Regions from separate parts of the Homo sapiens genome. Here region 1 is linked to region 2. The links come from fine-mapping of genetic effects on gene expression. A gene starts in region 2. The other region holds a variant in brackets. All regions are shown on one strand. Distances are between the middles of the regions.

Region 1 (11,541 bases), 29 kb after region 2:
GATGAACGACTATAGGATTTTAAGAGCTTCATTTTCTTCATCTATTGAGACAATCATGTATTTCTCCTCTATTCTGTTAATGTGACAGATTATATTGATTGATTTTTCTGAAAAATCATTCAGATTATAAACTACTTATACTTTGCTAGTATAAAACCACGAAGTAACAGGGTGGTCAGAGCATAAAAGAGCTAGCCATGGTAAGACTCGGGGAGAAATTTTTTTTTTTTGAGACAGAGTCTTGTGCTGTTGCCCAGGCTGGAGTGCAGTGGCGCGATCTCCGCTCACTGCAAGCTCCACCTCCCGGGTTCGCGCCATTCTCCTGCCTCAGCCTCCCAAGTAGCTGGGATTACAGGCGCCCGCCACCACGCCCGGCTAATTTTTTGTATTTTTGGTAGAGGCAGGGTTTCACTGTGTTAGCCAGGATGGTCTTGATCTCCCGACCTTGTGATCCGCCCACCTTGGCCTCCCAAGGTGCTGGGATTACAGGCGTGAGCCACCGCGCCCAGGTGAAATCATTCTATATTTACACAAACTCTCATAAATAAGAATAAAGGAAATGGTCCCCAATTCATTTTGTATTAATATAAAACCTGTAAGGATGGTACAGAAAAAGTGAATAAATTGATTCAAATTATTATTGAAACAAAATATTTAACAAAGGGAATTTAGCAATATATAAAAGGTAATACATCTTACTATTGCTAACTATATTAAACTGTGACTTCCTTTTTTTTTCGGTTAGGCCCATTTTTTGTCTCAGTGTACTTATTTTTATACATAATTATTTATCTGTTCACTTCTTTTGATTCACTCCTAAGATTTTTTCAGAATATTTTCTTTTTCTTTCTTTCTTTTTTTTTTTTTGATGGAGTTTTGCTCTTGTTGCCCAGGCTGGAGTGCAATGGTGCAATCTCGGCTCACTGCAACCTCCACCTCCCAGGTTCAAGTGATTCTCCTTCCTCAGCCTCCCGAGTAGCTGGGATTACAGGCATGTGCCACCATGCCAGGATAACTTTTTTTTGTATTTTTGGTAGAGATGGGTTTCTCCATGTTGGTCAGGCTGGTCTCGAACTCCCGACCTCAGGTGACCCACCCTCCTCGGCCTCCCAAAGTACTGAGATTACAGGCGTGAGCCCCCATGCCCAGCCCCAGGATATTTTCATGAGGGAAACCACTTGAATATTGTTTAGATATGGATGCTTTGGGTAAAGTGCTTTTTTGTTTTTCTTTTTGAAATTAAGAAGAAACATGGCGGCTATCCTTCTCTCACATCGAAAAGGAAATTTTGAACAATCATGGAAAATCTAAAACGTGCTGTGAAAACAAAGAAGAGAAATGTTGCAGGTAACAGCCTTATTTTGTTAAATGACAGATTATCTATGGTATGCTTAATTATTTGTTGACTCCACACCTCAGACCTGAAGAGCTGAGCTGGGTTGGGTCTGGGGGGCAGGGCAGGATTGGGTTGAGCTGGGGAGAGTGTGAGTATGAAACCAGAGAAGCTAGATCCAAAGGGCCAAGGAAAGGGTGTTGTTAGAAGGCAAGGCCGGGGAATAGTAGTTCTGAACCCTGGATCAGATGAATGTGTTTTTGTATAGATGTATCAGTAGGACAGAGTGAGAGGGTATGAGCACTAGCCATGACAATTCGATGGGTCTTAGTATTCTGCTTGTTTAAAAGTAATGGATATTAATGCCATATAATTGGAGGAGGCCAAAAGGTCGCTCTTATTAGATACTGGGCTTGCTTTGGGATAGTTGGGTTGTGTTGACGGCTAGGGATTGATTGGCCAAACTGAAAACAACACTAAGTGAGTAATTTTTTTTTTTGAGACAGACTTTCACTCTGTCACCCAGACTGGAGTGCAGTGGCACAATTACGGCTCACCACAGCCTCGATCTCCTGGGCTCAAGCAATCATCCTACCTCAGCCCCCCAAGTAGCTGAGATTACAGGTGCATGCCACCATGCTCGGCTAATTTAAAAAAAAATTTTGTAGAGGGCCTGTTGGCTCACACCTGTAATCCCAGCCTAGCAACATGGTGAGACCCCACCTCCATAAAAAATTTAAAAATTAGCCAGGCATGGTGACTGGTGCCTGTGGTCCCAGCTACTTGGAAGGCTGAGGTAGGAGAATGGCTCGAGCCCAGAAAATCAAGGCTGCAGTGAGCCATGATCGTGCCACTGCACTGCAACCTGGGTGACATAGTGACACCCTGTCTCAAAAAAAATTTTTTTTATTGGTAGAGATGGTGGTCTCCCTTTGTTGCCCAGGCAGGCTGGTCACCAACTCCTGGGTTCAAGTAAACTTCCCGCCTTGGCCTCCCAAAGTCTTGGAAGTACGGGGATGAGACACTGCACCCCACCATTTTTTTTTGTGATGGCATACACACCATAAAGAACTAAGATTGAAAAGGAATTGTTCATTTGAGTTTCTAAAGTTGGCCAGTATTGGCCAGGCATGGTGGCTCAAGGCCTGCAATCCCAGCACTTTGGGAGGCCAGGGCAGGTGGATCACCTGAGGTCAGGAATTCGAGACCAGCCTGGCCTACGTGGCGAAACCCCGTCTCTACTAAAAATACAAAAATTAGCTGGGCGCAGTGGCACGTGCCTGTAATCCCCGCTACTCAGGAGGCTGAGGCAAGAGAATCACCTGAACCCGGGAGACAGAGGTTGCAATAAGCTGAGATCATGCCACTGCACTCCAGCCTGGGCAACAGAGCAAGACTCCATCTTAAATAAATAAATAAATAAATAAATAAATAAATAAATAAAGTAAGTTGGCCAGTATAAAGATCACAAAAGTTAAAAAGTCAAAACAAAAATGCCCAACATGCAGGCACAGAGGTTCTTTAAGATCTCATATGCAGGCTTTGAAGTAAGCATTAAGAAAACTATATTGTTGGCCAGGCACAGTGGCTCACGCCTGTAATCCCAGCACTTTGGGAGGCCGAGGCAGGTAGATCACCTGAGGTCAGGAGTTCGAGACCAGCCTGGCCAACGTTATGAAACCCCGTCTCTACAAAAATGCAAAAATTAGCCGGGCGAGGTGGCATGCACCTGTAATCCCAGCTACTTAGGAGGTTGAGGCAGGAGAATCGCTTGAACCCAGTAGGCAGAGGTTGCGGTGAGCTGAGATCACACCACTGCACTCCAGCCTGGGCAACAGAGCGAGACTCCATCTCAAAAAAAAAGGAAAAAGAAAAAAAAAAAGAAATATTGTTGATAAGGCTAAATAGTTTCATAAATAGTACATTTTGTCAACTACTAAATAACTAGATGAGATGGCAGATTATCTATGGTACTCTTAATAATGTAAATAATTCTGTGATACAATCAGTGGATTTTAGAAAAGAAAAAATTTATATTAAATTTGCAGTTCAATAAAGTAAAATAATTTTATAACAAAACAAGATTTTGGATCGCTTGAGGGGGGTGAGGGGAGGGTCAGAGGTTGCAGTGAGCCGAGATTGTATCACTGCATCCCAGCCTGGGTGACAGAGTGAGACCCTGTCTCAAAAAAAAAAAAAATAGTATAAATATCTGTTAGCTTTATACAGTTGAAGAAATTCATAGAATATATTTAAGCTAAGAATGGGAAAGAGAGGGAAAAAATGTGTTTTTGAAACTTCAAACCATATATTTGAAAACATAATCAGATTTTAGTGTGACTGTTGTATTTATTTTATTTTATTTTATTTTATCATTTCATTTCATTTCATTTATTTCATTTTATTTTATTATTTTATTTTATTTTATTTTATTTTATTTTGAGATGGAGTCTCACTTGTTGCCCAGGCTGGAGTGCAGTGGCATGATCTTGGCTCACTGCAACCTCTGCCTCCTGGGTTCAAGTGATTCTCCTGCCTCAGCCTCCCGAGTAGCTGGGATTATAGGTGCACGCCACCACACCTGGCTAATTTTTGTATTTTTAGTAGAGATGGGGTTTCAGCATACTGGCCAGGCTGATCTCGAACTCTTGACCTCGTGATCCGCCTGCCTAGGCCTCCCAAAGTGCTGGGATTACAGGCATGAGCCACCGCGCCCGGCTTTTTTGTTTTTGTTTTTGTTTTCTGTGTGTGACAGAGTTTCGTTCTTGTTGCCCAGGCTGGAGTGCAATGACGCGATCTTGGCTCACTGCAACCTCCGCCTCCTGGCTTCAAGCGATTCTCGTGCCTCAGCCTGCAGAGTAGCTGGGATTACAGGCGTGCGCCACCACGCCCAGCTAATTTTGTATTTTTAGTAGAGACGGGGTTTCACCATATTAGTCAGGCTGGACTCAAACTCTTGATCTTAGGTGATCCCCCTGCCTCAGCCTCCCAAAGTGCTGGGATTACAGGCGTTGTGTCACCACGCCCGGCCTATATTTATGTTATTATATATCTTTATTGTTTATATTTTTGCTATGAGATGCCTAAAATCCTTTGTTGAATGTAAATAAGTAAAAATAAGTGTTTTCCTTTTTTATTCAACAGGAAAGATTGTTTAAAACTAATGAAATACCTTTTAGAACAGCTGAAAGAAAGGTTTAAAGACAAAAAACATCTGGATAAATTCTCTTCTTATCATGTGAAAACTGCCTTCTTTCACGTATGTACCCAGAACCCTCAAGACAGTCAGTGGGACCGCAAAGACCTGGGCCTCTGCTTTGATAACTGCGTGACATACTTTCTTCAGTGCCTCAGGACAGAAAAACTTGAGAATTATTTTATTCCTGAATTCAATCTATTCTCTAGCAACTTAATTGACAAAAGAAGTAA[G/A]GAATTTCTGACAAAGCAAATTGAATATGAAAGAAACAATGAGTTTCCAGTTTTTGATGAATTTTGAGATTGTATTTTTAGAAAGATCTAAGAACTAGAGTCACCCTAAATCCTGGAGAATACAAGAAAAATTTGAAAAGGGGCCAGACGCTGTGGCTCACACCTGTAATCCCAGCTCTTTGGAGGCCGAGGCAGGCGGATCACTTGAGGTCAGGAGTTTGAGACCAGCCTGACCAACATGGTGAAACTCCATCTCTACTAAAAATATAAAAATTAGCCGGGCATGGTGATGCATGCCTGTAATCCCAGCTACTCGGGAGGCTTAGACATGAGAATCACTTGAACCCAGGAGGTGGAGGTTGCAGTGAGTCAAGATGGCACCACTGCACTCCATCCTGGGTGACAGAGCAAGACTTCCTCTCAAAAAATAAATAAATAAATAAGAAAAATAAATTAGGAAATTATTAAAATAATTTTTTAGAAAAGCAACAAAATAACAAAAATTAGTGACTGTAATAATTGGAATGTTTGAAATTTGTCACAGCAATAATTGACTAAAATGAATGTAAATAATTATTCAGTTTTCAGTTTGTTGTAATAAACTCTAATCAGTATAAAGGATTGACTATCCTAGGAAAAAGATTAGTCAAGGAATAAGAAGCAAAAGTAGTATTTGAAATCTAAAAACATTACCATGTTTGCTTTATCATGCAGGCAAATAAATAAATAAATGACATTTTTAGGTTGGAATAAAAAAAGATAAAGTACATATTGCCTTAATTAAATTCATCAAGTTCTTACTGAAAAACAGCTCTCCGCCGTGCCTGGCCAGGAAATACATAATTTTTTTTTTTTTTTTTTAGATGGAGTCTCGCTCTGTCGCCCAGGCTGGAGTCCAGTGGCATGATCTTGGCTCACTGCAAGCTCTGCTTCCTGGGTTCATGCCATTCTCCTGCCTCAGCCTTCCGAGTAGCTGGGACTACAGGTGCCCGCCACCACATCCGGCTAATTTTTTGTATTTTTAGTAAAGATGGGGTTTCACCATGTTAGCCAGGATGGTCTCGATCTCCTTACCTTGTGATCCGCCCGCCTTGGCCTCCCAAAGTGCTGGGATTACAGGTGTGAGCCACCACGCCTGGCTGAAATACATAATCTTAAAAGAAAACATAAGATACTTTATTTTAATATACGTGACTAAATGTAAAACCTAACTTATTTTCTGTTATCTATTTATTTTTACTTTCAGTAACACTTTTTTTATTTTAGGTAGCATTCAGCCTAGAGGCAACTGCTGTTTGTTAAATATTTCCTGTTCATATATTTTGCACATTTTCTTATGGGTTAGTTTTCTTCTCATTGTTTTGGGAAGTTCTTAATATATTTGGGGTATTTATCTTTCATTCGTTGTCTGTGTAACAAATAACTTCTGCCATATGGGTTGTCTGCACATTTTTTGGTGTCTTTTAGTAAACAAGGTTTTTTTGTTTTGTATTGTTTTGTTTATTGTAAAGATTTTTAAATTTTAATGGAGTTGATTTCTTTTCTCATTCAAGCTTTTGAGAATAAATTGGAGTTGAATTTTTTATGGTTTTTGCTTTATACATCTTGTTTAACAGCCTACTATGTTTGAACATACTAAGAGAAACATTAGACATTTGAAGAGTTTTGGGGACAATTAATGATAAATAAACCACTATGCAAATAAAATAATCTAAGCAATTTTTTTTTTTTTTGGGACAGTCTCACTCTGTCGCCCAGGCTGGAGTGCAGTGGCACGATCTTGGCTCACTGCACCCTCCTCCTCCCGGTTCAAGCAATTCTCCTGCCTCAGCCTCCCAAGTAGCTGGGACTACAGTTGCACGCCACCATGCCTGGCTAATTATTTTTGTATTTTTAGTAGAGACAGAGTTTCACCATGTTGGTCAAGCTGGTCTCAAACTCCTGACCTCAGGTGATACACCCATCTCAGCCTCCCAAAGTGCTAAGATTACAGATGTGAGCACTGTGCCCAGCCAATCTAAGCAATTTTTAACTCCATAAGAAAAATGAATGCATGAAAGAAAAGTCTGATATAAGAATATTGCTCAGCTGTTTAAGTATTGACAAAGTCATAGTAATGTAACCATTGACTATTAATCTTATTGAAGTTATGGACTGTTGTCGACTTTAAAAAAATTAAAAACCAGGGGCGGTGGCTCACCCCTGTAATTCCAGCACTTTGGGAGGCCAAGGCGGGCAGATCATGAGGTCAGGAGTTCAAGACCAGCCTGGCCAACATGGTGAAACCTCATCTCTACTAAAAATACAAAAATTAGATGAGTATGGTGGTACGTGCCTGTAATCCCAGCTACTTGGGAGGCTGAGGCAGGAGAATCGCTTGAACCCAGGAGGCAGAGGTTGCAGTGAGCCAAGACAGTGCCGCTGCACTCCAGCCTGGTGACAGAGCGAGACTCCATCTCAAAAAAAAAAAAAAAATTAAAAAAAAACTTTTTTAATGTGAAAAGAAAGAAAGAAATTATGATTACCCACTCTGTGGTTAGGATAGGACAATAGGCTTAGTTCCTGTATGGTGACAGTGGTAGGGAGATTACATTAGTTTCCTGTGTAACAATTAACCACAACCTTAGAGGCTTAAAACAACACATATTTATTATCTCACATTTTCAGTGGGCCAAAATTCTGGGTGTGGCTCTGCTCAGAGTCTCTCAAGGCTATAATTAAGACGTCAGCCAGCGCTGTAGCCTCATCTGAGGCTTGACTGGAGAAGGAACCATTTTTGTTGGCAGAATTTAGTTCCTTTACATTTGTAGGACTGAGGGCTTCAGTTTCTTGCTGTCAGCCAGAGGTTGCCCTCAGTTCCTAGAAGCTGTCTTCAGTTCCTTACCATGTGAGCCTCCCAACATAGGCAGCCCACAACAGTAGCTCGATTCTTCAAAGCCAGCAAGGGAGGTACTCCAGCAAGAGGAGTGCTACAAACTTGTTTAACACAATTACATACACATAATTATGTACAGTCCGTTGCCTGTACTGTATTCTATTGATTGGAAGCAAGTCAAAGGTCCCTCTCATACCCAAGAGGAGAGGAATCACTCAAGGGTGTTCTTGTTGTCTCAGATGCCAGCGATACAGTTAGGGGGAAAACAGTTCCCATAAGACCACCCTCATTTCTGTCAACAATTGCAATTTCAAGGGATTCCTAAAACCACCCTGAGGTTTGATGAAAGACTCACAGAACTCACTAAAACCACTATGCTCATGGTTGCAGTTTATTATATAGTAAGCATGCAAGTTTAAATCAGCCAAAGGAAGAAGTGCGTAAGGCAGAGTTTAAGAGAGTAGCAAACACAGCACTTTCTGTTGTCTTTTGGTGGAGTCATGGACATGTTATTCTCTTGGCATCAATGTGTGCCAATACACGCAGAATATTGCCAGCCAGGGAAGCTCACCTGAGCCATGTCCAGAGTTCTTACTGCAGCTCATGGTTGGCTGGACATATGTCTAACCTCAGTCTCCAGCTCCTCTGGAAGGCAAACAGTATAAGCTGATACCATGACCCAAAGACCCCACCATAAATCACATTGTTATACTTTCTGGCACATTCCAAGAATTCAGCCATTACCTTTCAGAAGCCAAGGGCAAAGGTGAGACTTTTCTTTGGGTTAGGTTAAATTCCTTACTACATAGATATGAACCTCAGGAGGTGGGGGGCCACAGGACAACCCTGAGGGTCCGACTGTCACAGGTATGCAAAAACTGAATTAATCTTCCTTATAGTGGGAAGTCAGTAAATGTCAAATTTTTAAAACCAAGAAATTGCAGTATAAGCAAGTTATTAATGGCTAAAAGATGAAAAGGTTACATCTTGGGAGTGGAAAATGAAGGGTGGAAGGGTTCGGGACTACTTTTTTTTTTAAATAAAATGATTTTATTTAGTTAGTTTGTAAATGTGAATATAGTTGGCAAAAACCAAACCAAAACAGCATAAAACCAAAAAATGACAGTTATATGATTGATCATGCCCAAGTACAACAGCATTTATTAGTAGAATATAAAAAATAAATTTTATGGCTGGGTGCCATGGCTCATGCCTGTAATCCCAGCACTTTGGGAGGACGAGGCGGGCGGATCACCTGAGGTCAGGAGTTCAAGACCAGCCTGATCAACATGGAGAAACCCCGTCTCTACTAAAAATACAAAATTGGCCGGGTGTGGTGGCGCATGCCTGTAATCCCAGCTACTCAGGAAGGCTGAGGCAGAAGAATTGCTTGAACCTGGGAGGCAGAGGTTGCAGTGAGCCGAGATTGTGCCATTGCAGTCCAGCCTGGGCAACAAGAGCGAAATTCCATCTCTAAATAAATTAATTAAATTAAAAATAATAAAAAATTTTATTATTGTTGTTATTTATTTATTTATTTTTTTGAGACGGAGTCTTGCTCTGTCACCCAGGCTGGAGTGCAGTGGCGCGATCTTGGCTCACTGCAACCTCCGCCTCCCGAGTTCAAGCGATTCTCCTGCCTTAGCCTCCCAAGTAGCTGGGATTACAGGCACCCACCACCACGCCCACCTAATTTTTTGTATTTTTAGTAGAGACAGGGTTTCACTATGTTGGCCAGGCTGGTCTTGAATGCTTGACCTCATGATCCACCTGCTTTGGCCTTCCAAAGTGCTGAGATTAAGGCGTGAGCCACTGCGCCTGGCCTAAAAATTTTGTTATTTTTATGTGCTTTTTTTCCCCCAGCTTTGACTCTCTGGATGCTTTTGAAAGTTTGAGTTCCTAAGAAATTCCACAGCTAGAGGTTCCTACGATGTCACTGAGTGAGGTTAAGGTTCTGCTCTTATAGGGAGCATCTTATCCTTGGGGATTCTGGACAACTGGACCCCTAGGAACTTGAAAAACAGCTGCTTTCATTGGTATTCTTTTGACATGGGGAAAATATAGCCATTGTCCATTAAAACACAATCCAATTTGGGTACAAGTACTCTTCAGGTTTTCTAAGTTCTCCACAGGAATACCAAGACTAGGCTACCATCTTTTCTGACAACAGACTACTTTTTAAATAAGCTTTGTAAGTCCAAGATTTCTGGCAGAGAAATGTAAATAAAAAATAAAAACAAAAATAAATAAGTCTTGTAGAACCATTTGCTTCCATACATTACATGTATATTTGACTTTGATAAAAATGAAAACAATTTTTTTTTTTGAGACAGAATTTCCCTCTTGTTGCCCAGGCTGGAGTGCGATGACCTAATCTTGGCTCACTGCAAACTCCACCTCCCGGGTTCAAGCGATTCTCCTGCCTCAGCCTCCCGAGTAGCTGGGATTATAAGCGCCCGCCACCACATCTGGCTAATTTTGTATTTTTAGTAGAGACCGGGTTTCTCCGTGTTGGTCAGGCTGGGCTCGAACTCCTGACCTCTGGTGATGCGCCCGCCTCGTCCTCCCAAAGTGCTGGTATTACAGGCGTGAGCCACTGTGCACGGCCTGAACACATATTATTTTTAAATTTTTTCATTTTGCCGGGCGCGGTGGCCTGAACACATATTACTTTTAAATCTTTTTCATTTTGCCAGGCATGAGGGTGGATGCCTGTAATCCCAGCTACTTGGGAGGCTGAGGCAGGAGAGTCGCTTGAACCTGGGAGGCGGAGGTTGTGGGTGAACTGAGATTGTGCCATTGCACTCCAGCCTGGGCAACAAGAGTGAAACTCTGTCTCAAAAAAAAAGTAATATGTGTTCAATGTGAAAAAGTCAGATGTTCACGTTAAAGTGTAAAAAAAAACAAACAGTGAAAATACAGAGAAATAGCATTATTAATCTAACATTTTATTACTGGGTAGTGCCACGCAATTCCAGGCTCCTGGTGTCTTGTTTTGTTTGTTCATTTTTGAGACGGAGTCTCACTCTGTCACCTAGGCTGGAGTGCAGTGGCCCGATCACAGCTCACTGCAACCTCTGCCTCCTGGCATCCAGTGGTTCTCCTGCCTCAGCCTCCTGATTGGGACTGCAGGCCTGCGCCACCATGCCTGGCTAATTTTCATATTTTTAGTAGAGACGGGGTTTCACCACGTTGGGCAGGCTGGTCTCGAACTCCTGACCTCCAGTGTTCTGCCTGCCTCGGTCTCCCAAAGTGCTGGGATTACAGACGTGAGCCACCGTGCCTGGCCTGGCACTTGGTGTCTTGAACAAAGACTTGGATGAGACACACACAGATAGTAAATAAAGCAAAGCAGCAAAAGCTTATTAAGCACTCTCACAAAGGGGAGAGCTGACTGACTTCTGTGAGATGAGATCAGCCTGGTTTGTTACATTTCATGGCCTTTTCTTTTCCTCACTTGCTTACCCTCACTTTATTTCTTGTAAGCTAATTGCTCATCCTTGCTTAACCTTACTTTTTTTTTTTTTTTGAGACAGGGTCTCACTCTGTCACCCAGACTGGAGTGCAGTAGCGTGATCTCGGCTCACCGCAACCTCTGCCTCCCAGGCTTAAGTGATTCTCCTGCCTCAGCCTCCTGAGTAGCTGGGATTACAGGCATGCCCCACCACCCCTGGGTAATTTTTATATTTTTAGTAGAGATGGAGTTTCACTATGTTGGCCAGGCTAATCTCGAACTCCTGACCTCAAATGATCCACCCACCTCGGCCCCCCAAAGTGTTAGGATTACAGATGTGAGTCACCGCACCCAGCTGCTCATCTTTACTTTCATTTTTTGTGACCAAATTCCTACTGCAAGTCCTTGTGACTTATTTTTTATCCTGTATGTTTTAACTCACTGCTTACT
Region 2 (8,991 bases):
AATCCCAGCTACTTGGGAGGCTGAGGTACGAATTGCTGCAATGAGCTGACATTGCACTGCTGCACTCCAGCTTGGGTGGCAGAGTGAGATGCTGTCTCAGAAAAAAAAAAAAAAAAGAAGTGGTAAAGTCAACTAGATAAAATATATACCCACAAATAAATTTCCTGGGGTTTCCTACTAGATAAAATCCAAGTTCCACATCAAGACTCAACTAAACAGTCATTTTCTCTGTGATTTGGACACTGATTGCTGCAGAAAGGTTGAATAAAGAATGAGTTCTCCTCCTTTGGTAGGCCAATAGTAGAGATATTTGATCTGGCCCAGTGGATTGTTGCTTGCAGCTTCTGGTTAAAGAAACCACCAGTGACTTAAGGGGACTTTAGAAACTGATGGAAGAGAGCATTTATTTTATTTTATTATTTTTTTTTTTTTGAGACGGAGTCTCGCTCTGTCTCCCAGTCTGGAGTGCAGTGGCGTGATCTCGGCTCACTGCAACCTCCGCCTCCCAGGTTCAAGCAATTCTCCTGCCTCAGCCTCCCATGTAGCTGGGACTATGGGTGCCGGCCACCACGCAAGGCTAATTTTTGTATTTTTAGTAGAGACCATATTGGTCAGGCTGGTCTCAAACTCCCGACCTCAGGTGATCCACCCACCTTAGCCTCCCAAAGTGCTGGGATTACAGGCGTGAGCCACCGCGCCCGGCTGAGAGCATTTATTTTTATGTATTTTTTTTTTGAGATGGAGTCTTGCTCTGTTGCCCAGGCTGGAGTGCAATGGCGCCATCTTGGCTCACTGCAACCTCCACCTCCCAGGTTCAATCAATCCTCCTGCCTCAGCCTCCGGAGTAGCTGGGATTACAGGGGCCCACCACCACGCCCATCTAATTTTTGTATTTTTAGTAGAGACAGGTTTCACCATCTCGCCCAGGCTGGTCTCGAACTCCTGACCTTGAGATCTGCCCGCCTCAGCCTCCCAAAGTGCTGGGATTACAGGAGTGAGCCACTGCACCCAGCCCGGAAGAGAGCACTAAACTAACTGTAGAGTCATTTACAGGATTTCATGACAAGCAGCTGAAGTCCTTGGAGAAAACAAACAGAACCATAGAGCAGAGGCCCTCAGAATGTGGTAGTTACCCCTGAACATCCTGGAAGACTATCCAGATGCACTTGTAGTTTCTTTTTTTTTTCTTTTTTCTTTTTTTTTTTTTTTTGGCGACAGAGTCTCACTCTGTCGTCTAGGCTGGAGTGCATTGGCATGATCTCAGATCACTGCCACCTCTGCCTCCTGGGTTCAAGCGATTCTCCTGCCTCAGCCTCCCAAGTAGCTGGGATTACAGGCATGCACCACCACACCTGGCTAATTTTTGTGCTTTTAGTAGAGATGGGGTTTCACCATGTTGGCCAGGCTGGTCTTGAACTCCTGACCTCAGGTGATCTGCCTGTGTGGATCTGCCAAACTGCTGGGATTACAGGCATGAGCCACCACACCTGGACAGCTCTTGCAGTTTCAAGGAAATGGATTTCCACATTTCAACTTCCATTTTACTCTTCCCTGAAATTGGCTGGCTTGGGAACAAGTCTGACTATGCAATGGTCCTCCTTCTATTTCTCCTCCTTATATATTTCACAAGAGAAAAATACACCTTTCTGGCATCCTAATTCAAACTACGGCTCATTGCTCCAGGGTGGTAAAAATCTCTTTGAACTTAACAGAAGGATATATAAAAATACTTGTTTCAGGGAAATCTTTTTAAAAAGTAAGGCATTTTTGTCCTTTGACAGGTGAATGGATAAACAAAATGTGATATATACATACAAAGCAATATTATTCAGCCCTAAAACGGAAGGAAATTCTTGCAACATAGATGAACATTGGCTAAGAGTGATAAGCCAGTAACAAAAAGACAAACGTTGCATCATTTCACTGACATAAAGTACTTAGAGCAGTCAAAATCACAGTCAGAAAGTATAATGGTGGTTGCCAGGGGCTAGAGAGAGGAGAGAAAGATGAGTTATTGTTTATGGGTACAGAGTTTCAGTTTTGCAAGATGAAGAGTTTTGAAGACAGATGATAGTGATGGTTGCATAGGAATGTGAACATACTTAATATCATTGAATTATACACCCCCCAAAAATGGTTCAAATAGTACAAAGAAAAAAAAAGTAGTCAAGGCTTTCTAAACCCAAGAGGTTCTTGTCTAATATGCATTTCTTTTATTATTATTATTTTTTTTTTTTAGACAGAGTCTCATTCTGTTGCCCAGGCTGGAGTGCAGTGGCAGGATCTCACTCACTGCAACCTCTGCCTCCTGGGTTCAAGCTATTCTCCTGCCTCAGCCTCCCGAGTAACTGGGATCACAGACATGTGCCATCACACCCGGCTAATTTTTTGTATTTTTAGTAGAGACAAAGTTTCATCATGTAGGCCAGGCTGGTCTTGAACTCCTGATCTCAGAAGATCTAGGGCTCCTGAAGTGCTGGGATTATAGGCATGAGCCACTGCGCCTGACCTCTAATATGCATTTCTATCAGGGGCTTTAGAAATAGATACTTGAAGGCCAGGCAAGGTGGCTCACGCCTGTAATCCCAACACTTTGGGAGGCCAAAGGGGGCAGATCACCTGAGGTCAGGAGTTCGAGACCAGCCTGGTCAACATGGTGAAACCCCGTCTCTACTAAAAAGGTAAAAAAATTAGCTGGGTGTGGTGGCAGGCGCCTATAATCCCAGCTACTCAGGAGGTTGAGGCAGGAGAATCGCTTGAACCCAGGAGGCGGAGGTTACAGAGAGCCGAGATAGCACCATTGCACTCCAGCCTGGACAACAAAAGTGAAACTCCATCTCGAAAAAAAAAAAAAGATATTTGAAAGCCTGTATTGAGATACTCTAGAATCACAACAGCTGAAGCAGTATGAATGATTTAAAATGTAAATGCCAGGTCCGGTGCAGTGGCTCATGCCAGTAACAGCACTTTGGGAGGCTGAGGCGGGCAGATAGCTTGTTGGGGACCAGCCTGGGCAACATGGTGAAACCACATTTCTACAAAACCATACAAAAATTAGCTGGGCATGGTGGGGCACGCCTGTAGTCCCAGCTGCGCAAGAGGCTGAGTCACGAGAATCTCTTGAACCCGGGAGGCGGAGGGTGTGGTGAGCTGAGATTGTACCATTGCACTCCAGCCTGGGCAACAAGAGCAAAACTCCGTCTCAAAAATGAATAAAATAAAATAAAATAAAAAGAGAGAACTTTACACAACTTTTTTTCCCCCTGAGACAGAGTCATTTGCCCTGTCGCCCAGGATGGAGTGCAGTGGTCTGATCTCAGCTCATTACCACCTCCGCTTTCCCGATTCAAGCAATTCTCCCGTCTCAGCCTCCCCAGTAGCTGGGTTTACAAGCATGGCCCACCACACCTGGCTAATTTTTGTATTTTTAGTAGAGATGGGTTTTCACCATGCTGGACAGGCTGGTCTTGAACTCCTGACCTCAAGTGATCCACCCACCTTCGCCTTCCAAAGTGCCGGGATTATAGGCGTGAGTCACCGCACCAGGCAGAAACTTTACACAACATTTTAAAGATTTTCTGTGCTTTTTAAAAAATGTCAAATAGAAGTATTTACTCCAATTGCAGTCAATCTTTGTTTCATTCCATCTTGTAAAAGTTGAATATTTTCTCTTTCTTATTTTTTTCTTTTTTCAAAGTATTTTTCATTTGTTATTAATTTTTTTCTTTTTAAAAATTATTATTTTATTTCTTATTGATTTTTAAAAAACCCTATTTAAATTTACATTGAAAAAGTTGGCCGGGCGCTGAGGCTCATGCCCGTAATCCCAACAGTTTGGGAGGCCGAGGCAGGTGGATCACGAGATAAGGAGTCCCAGACCAGCCTGGCCAATATGGTGAAACTCCTTTCTACTAAAAATACAAAAATTAGCCGGGCATGGCGGCGCACACCTGTAGTCCCAGCTACTTCGGAGGCTGAGGCAGGAGAATCGCTTGAATCCGGGAGGCAGAGGTTACAGTGAGCCGAGATCGTGCCACTGCACTCCAGCCTAGGGGACAGAATGAGACTCCATCTCAGGAAAAAAAAAAAAAAAAAGGGAAAAGTTTCTGGCCAGGCGCCGTGGCTCACGCCTGTAATCGCAGCACTTTGGGAGGCCGAGGCGGGTGGATCACTTGAGGTCAGCAGTTTGAGAGCAGCCTGGCCAACATAGCGAAACCCCGTCTCTACTAAAAATACGAAAAATTAGCCGGGCGTGGTGGCGGGCGTCTGTAATCCCAGCTACCCGGGAGGCTGAGGTAGGAGAATTGCTTGAACCCAGGAGGCAGAGGTTGCAGTGAGCCAAGATCGCACCATTGCACTTCGGCCTGGGTGACAAGAGCGAAATTCTGTCTCAAAAAAAAAAAAAAAAAAAAAGAAAGAAAGAAAGAAAAGAAAAAGAAAAAAAAGAAAAGAAAAAGTTTCTGTGGCAGGGCACAGTGGCTCATGCCTACAATCCCAACACTTTGGGAGGTTGAGGAGGGAGAATCGCTTGAGTCTAGGAGTTCGAGACCAGCCTGGGCAACATAGTGAGACCTCCCCATGTATACAAAAAAATTAAAAAGAAAAGAAAAAGCTGGGCATGGTGTCCGCACCTGTAGTAACAGCTACTCAGGATGCTGAGGTGGGAGGATCGCTTGAGCCCTGGTGGCTGAGGTTGCAGTGAGCCGAGATTGCGCCCCCCTAACTCAAACCAAAATTAAATTTAAAAAAACTTTCACTTGAAAGAGAAAAGTTTCTCTGTCAATGTTTTTGTTTTGTTTTGTTTTGTTTTGTGATGGACTCTTTTTCTGTTGCCCAGGCTGGAGTGCAGTGGCGCGATCTCGGCTCACTGCAACCTCTGCCTCCCGGGTTCAAGCAGTTCTCTGTCTCGGCCTCCCGAGTAGATGGGACTACAGGCGCCACCAAGCCCGGCTAATTTTTTGTATTTTTAGTAGAGACGGGGTTTCACCATGTTGGCCAGGAAGGTCTCGATGTCTTGGCCTCGTGATCCGCCCGCCTCGGCCTCCCAAACTGCTGAGATTACAGGCGTGAGCCACCACGCCTGGCCTCTTTTTCTTTTTTGAGACAGAGTCTCGCTCTGTCGCCCAGGCTGGAGTGAAGTGGCACGTCTCAGCTCACTGCAACCTCCGCCTCCCGGGTTCAAGTGATTCTCCAGCCTCAGCCTCCCGAGTAGCTGGGATTACAGGTGCCCGCCACCACGCCTAGCTAATATTTGTATTTTTTAGTAGAGACGGGGTTTCTTTCGCCTTGTTGGCCAGGCTGGTCTTGAACTCCTGACCTCAGGTGATCCGCCCACCTCGGTCTCCCAGATTGCTGGGATTACAGGCGTGAGTCAGTGTGCCCAGGCAACACACACACACACATATATTTAATTATAAGAAAGACCAGGTCTTGCTGGGTTGCCCAGGCTGGTCTCAAACTCCTGAGCTCAAGCGACCCGCCTGCCTCGGCCTCTCGGATGCTGAGGTTACAGGCGTGAGCCACCGCGCCCGGCCCTACCTCATCTTCTTAAGACAGGGGCACGGATTGCCTGGAGAGTTAGAAACTTCGAGACTTTTGTAGCCTCAGGAAAGGCCGCGGCCAGCCTCTTCGCGGCATGGGCGTGGCTCCCAGCGACTTCCCAGCCTGGGGTTCCCCTTCGGGTCGCAGACTCTTGTGTGCCCGCCAGTAGTGCTTGGTTTCCAACAGCTGCTGCTGGCTCTTCCTCTTGCGGCCTTTTCCTGAAACGGATTCTTCTTTCGGGGAACAGAAAGCGCCAGCCATGCAGCCTTGGCACGGAAAGGCCATGCAGAGAGCTTCCGAGGCCGGAGCCACTGCCCCCAAGGCTTCCGCACGGAATGCCAGGGGCGCCCCGATGGATCCCACCGAGTCTCCGGCTGCCCCCGAGGCCGCCCTGCCTAAGGCGGGAAAGTTCGGCCCCGCCAGGAAGTCGGGATCCCGGCAGAAAAAGAGCGCCCCGGACACCCAGGAGAGGCCGCCCGTCCGCGCAACTGGGGCCCGCGCCAAAAAGGCCCCTCAGCGCGCCCAGGACACGCAGCCGTCTGACGCCACCAGCGCCCCTGGGGCAGAGGGGCTGGAGCCTCCTGCGGCTCGGGAGCCGGCTCTTTCCAGGGCTGGTTCTTGCCGCCAGAGGGGCGCGCGCTGCTCCACGAAGCCAAGACCTCCGCCCGGGCCCTGGGACGTGCCCAGCCCCGGCCTGCCGGTCTCGGCCCCCATTCTCGTACGGAGGGATGCGGCGCCTGGGGCCTCGAAGCTCCGGGCGGTTTTGGAGAAGTTGAAGCTCAGCCGCGATGATATCTCCACGGCGGCGGGGATGGTGAAAGGGGTTGTGGACCACCTGCTGCTCAGACTGAAGTGCGACTCCGCGTTCAGAGGCGTCGGGCTGCTGAACACCGGGAGCTACTATGAGCACGTGAAGGTGAGCTGCTTGGCGCCCTCCCGCCGAGCCCCGCTGCTCGGCCTTCCGCAATCCGCAGTCCCTACCTTCCCCGGGTCGCGCCCCTCACTTCCCTTCGGAAGTAACTTAGACTTTTGCATGTTTTTCGGTAGCCTAGTCTAAGTAAAACGACAAACCGTTCGTTTATTCATCTACACATCCAACGATCAGACAACCAACCGGTACTGATTGCTGGCTAATTTCAAGACACTGCTCCCGGGGGAATTCAAATGTATGGGTTCATTCATGCAAGCCGACATGTATCGAGTTTCCGTAACAGGGCAGTGTTTGATGGTGTGGACCTGAGGTCCCGAGTCAGATATTGACTTGGATAATTTGAAGTGGTCTGTTAAAAATTCCACGTAGACTTTTTCCTATGAGGAAGACCTCTTACTCCATAGAAAAAAAGATCTTCAGTTTCTCTCCCCCTCTTCCTCCCTGCCCCCTCTCCTGCTATCCCGTCTGACCCCAATTTCTTTTTTTTCTTTTTTCTTTTCTTTTCTTTTTTTTTTTTTTTGAGGCGGAGTCTCGCTGCGTCCCCCAGGCTGGAGTGCAGTGGCGCTATCTCGGCTCACTGCAAGCTCCGCCTCCCGGGTTCACGCCATTCTCCTGCCTCAGCTTCCCGAGTAGCTGGGACTACAGGCGCCCGCCACCATGCCCGGCTAATTTTTTTTGTATTTTTAGTAGAGACGGTGTTTCACCGTGTTAGCCAGGATGGTCTCGATCTCCTGACCTCTTGATTCGCTCGTCTCGGCCTCTCAAAGTGCTGGGATTACAGGCGTGAGCTACCGCGCCCGGCCGTCTGTCCCCAGTTTCTTACACAGAAATCATGGGAAGCTTACAGTATAATGTTAAACAAACAAATAAGAATATCTCCTACAGATACTAAAACGCTTTCTAGATACACATTCCGTATAATTGCTTCGACGTGTGTATTACACAGCTCCATTTGCTTGTGGGTGATTGAGTCATTAATCATTCCTGTGTAAATTGAAAGTTTAGAAGCAGGTTCCTGACTGGAGCGTGTTTCTTGCCCAGCAAGAGATTTGTTTCTTTTTCTTTTTCTTTCTTTCTTTCTTTTTTTTTTTTTTGAGACGGAGTTTCGCTCTTGTTACCCAGGCTGGAGTGCAATGGCGCGATCTCAGCTCACCTCAACCTCCACCTCCCAGGTTCAAGCGATTCTCCTGTCTCAGCCTCCTGAGTAGATGGGATTACAAGCATGAGCCTCCACCCTGGCTAATTTTGTATTTTTAGTAGAGACGGGCTTTCTCCATGTTGGTCAGGCTGGTCTAGAACTCCCGACCTCAGGTGATCTGCCAGCCTCAGCCTCCCAAAGTGCTGGGATTACAGGCGTGAGCCACCACACCCGGCTTCTTTTCTCTTCTTTTTTCTCTTCTCTTCTCTTCTCTCTATCTCTCTGTCTCTCTCTTTTCCTCCCTCCCTCTCTTCCTCTCTCTCTCTCTCTCTTTATTTTGTTCTTTCTTTCTTTTCTTTCTTCTTTCTTCTTTTTTTGATGGAGTTTCACTCTTGTTGCCCAGGCTGTAGTGCAGTGGTGCCATCTAGGTTTCGCTGCAACCTCCGGCTTCCAGGTTCAAGCGATTCTCCTGCTTCAGCCTTCCAAATAGCAGGGATTACAGGTGCCTGCCCCCACTCCCGGCTAATTTATGTATTTTTAGTAGAGACGGGGTTTCACCATGTTGGCCAGGCTGGTCTCGAACTCTGACCTCAGATGATCCACCTGCCTCGGCCTCCCTAAGTGCTGGGATTACAGGCTTGAGCCACGGCACCCAGCCCAGACTGTGTCTTGAGCATGATTCTTTTTAATTAACTAATTTACTTTTCAGCATCAGATATGTCTCTGATTGAGCATGATTCTTATTATGTAAGTATCAATTCAGTTCAATTACTGTATATGGCGGGTCCAAAGGAAAAAGAAAGTTACTAGTTAGAATTAGAGAACAAGACATTCAGAAGACAGTCTCCATTCAGAACCACTTTGTGTGTGTGTGTGTGTGTGTGTGTGTGTGTGTTTGAGACAGAGTCTCACTCTGTCACCCAGGCTGGAGTGCAGTGGCGCGATCTCGGCTCACTGCAAGCCCTGCCTACTGGGTTCACACCATTCTCCTGCCTCAGCCTCCCAAGTAGCTGGGACTACAGGCGCCCGCCACCATGCCCAGCTAATTTTTGTATTTTTAGTAGAGACGGGGTTTCACCGTGTTAGCCAGGCTGGTCTCTATCTCCTGACCTCATGATCTTCCCGCCTTGGCCTCCCAAAGTGCTGGGATTACAGGTGGGAGCCACCATGCCCAGCCCAGAACCACTTTGTTTTTAAAAATTATGCCAATGAAAAGAAATCCAGTGAAATTTGTTTTATCTAAAACTTTTTCTTTTTTTCTTTTTCTTTTTTCTTTTTTTTTGGGGATGGAGTCTTGCTCTGTCACCCAGGGTGGAGTGCAGTGATGTGATCTTGGCTCACTGTAACCTCCGCCTCCCGGGTTCAAGTGAGTCTCCTGCCT

Alleles and levels. Alleles are on the strand shown, and positions count from the first base shown. SD is a standard deviation of normalised expression in the study named.
For the expression in monocytes after interferon gamma of the gene that starts at base 5,685 in region 2, G is the low allele of the variant in region 1 and A is the other (moderate effect, 0.51 SD a copy in Fairfax 2014).

What was found.
Region 1: its variant is fine-mapped to the expression of CGAS in monocytes after interferon gamma (Fairfax 2014, PIP 0.95). The same link has a PIP of 0.9 or more in monocytes after LPS.

What each region holds. Positions count from the first base shown.
Region 1 is chr6:73,418,515-73,430,055 of GRCh38, reverse strand. CGAS (cyclic GMP-AMP synthase) reads left to right here. Exons shown (of 5, transcript NM_138441.3): 4 at 1,245-1,347; 5 at 4,478-6,345. The coding sequence ends at 4,829. Among named protein-coding and RNA genes, the nearest start is that of CGAS, 28 kb to the left of the region's middle. RefSeq lists a silencer at 8,176-8,470. The variant G/A (reference allele first, on the strand shown) is at 4,763.
Region 2 is chr6:73,448,991-73,457,981 of GRCh38, reverse strand. It overlaps CGAS (cyclic GMP-AMP synthase), which reads left to right and starts at 5,685. Exons shown (of 5, transcript NM_138441.3): 1 at 5,685-6,457. The coding sequence starts at 5,801. RefSeq lists an enhancer at 5,404-5,883 and a silencer at 6,054-6,263.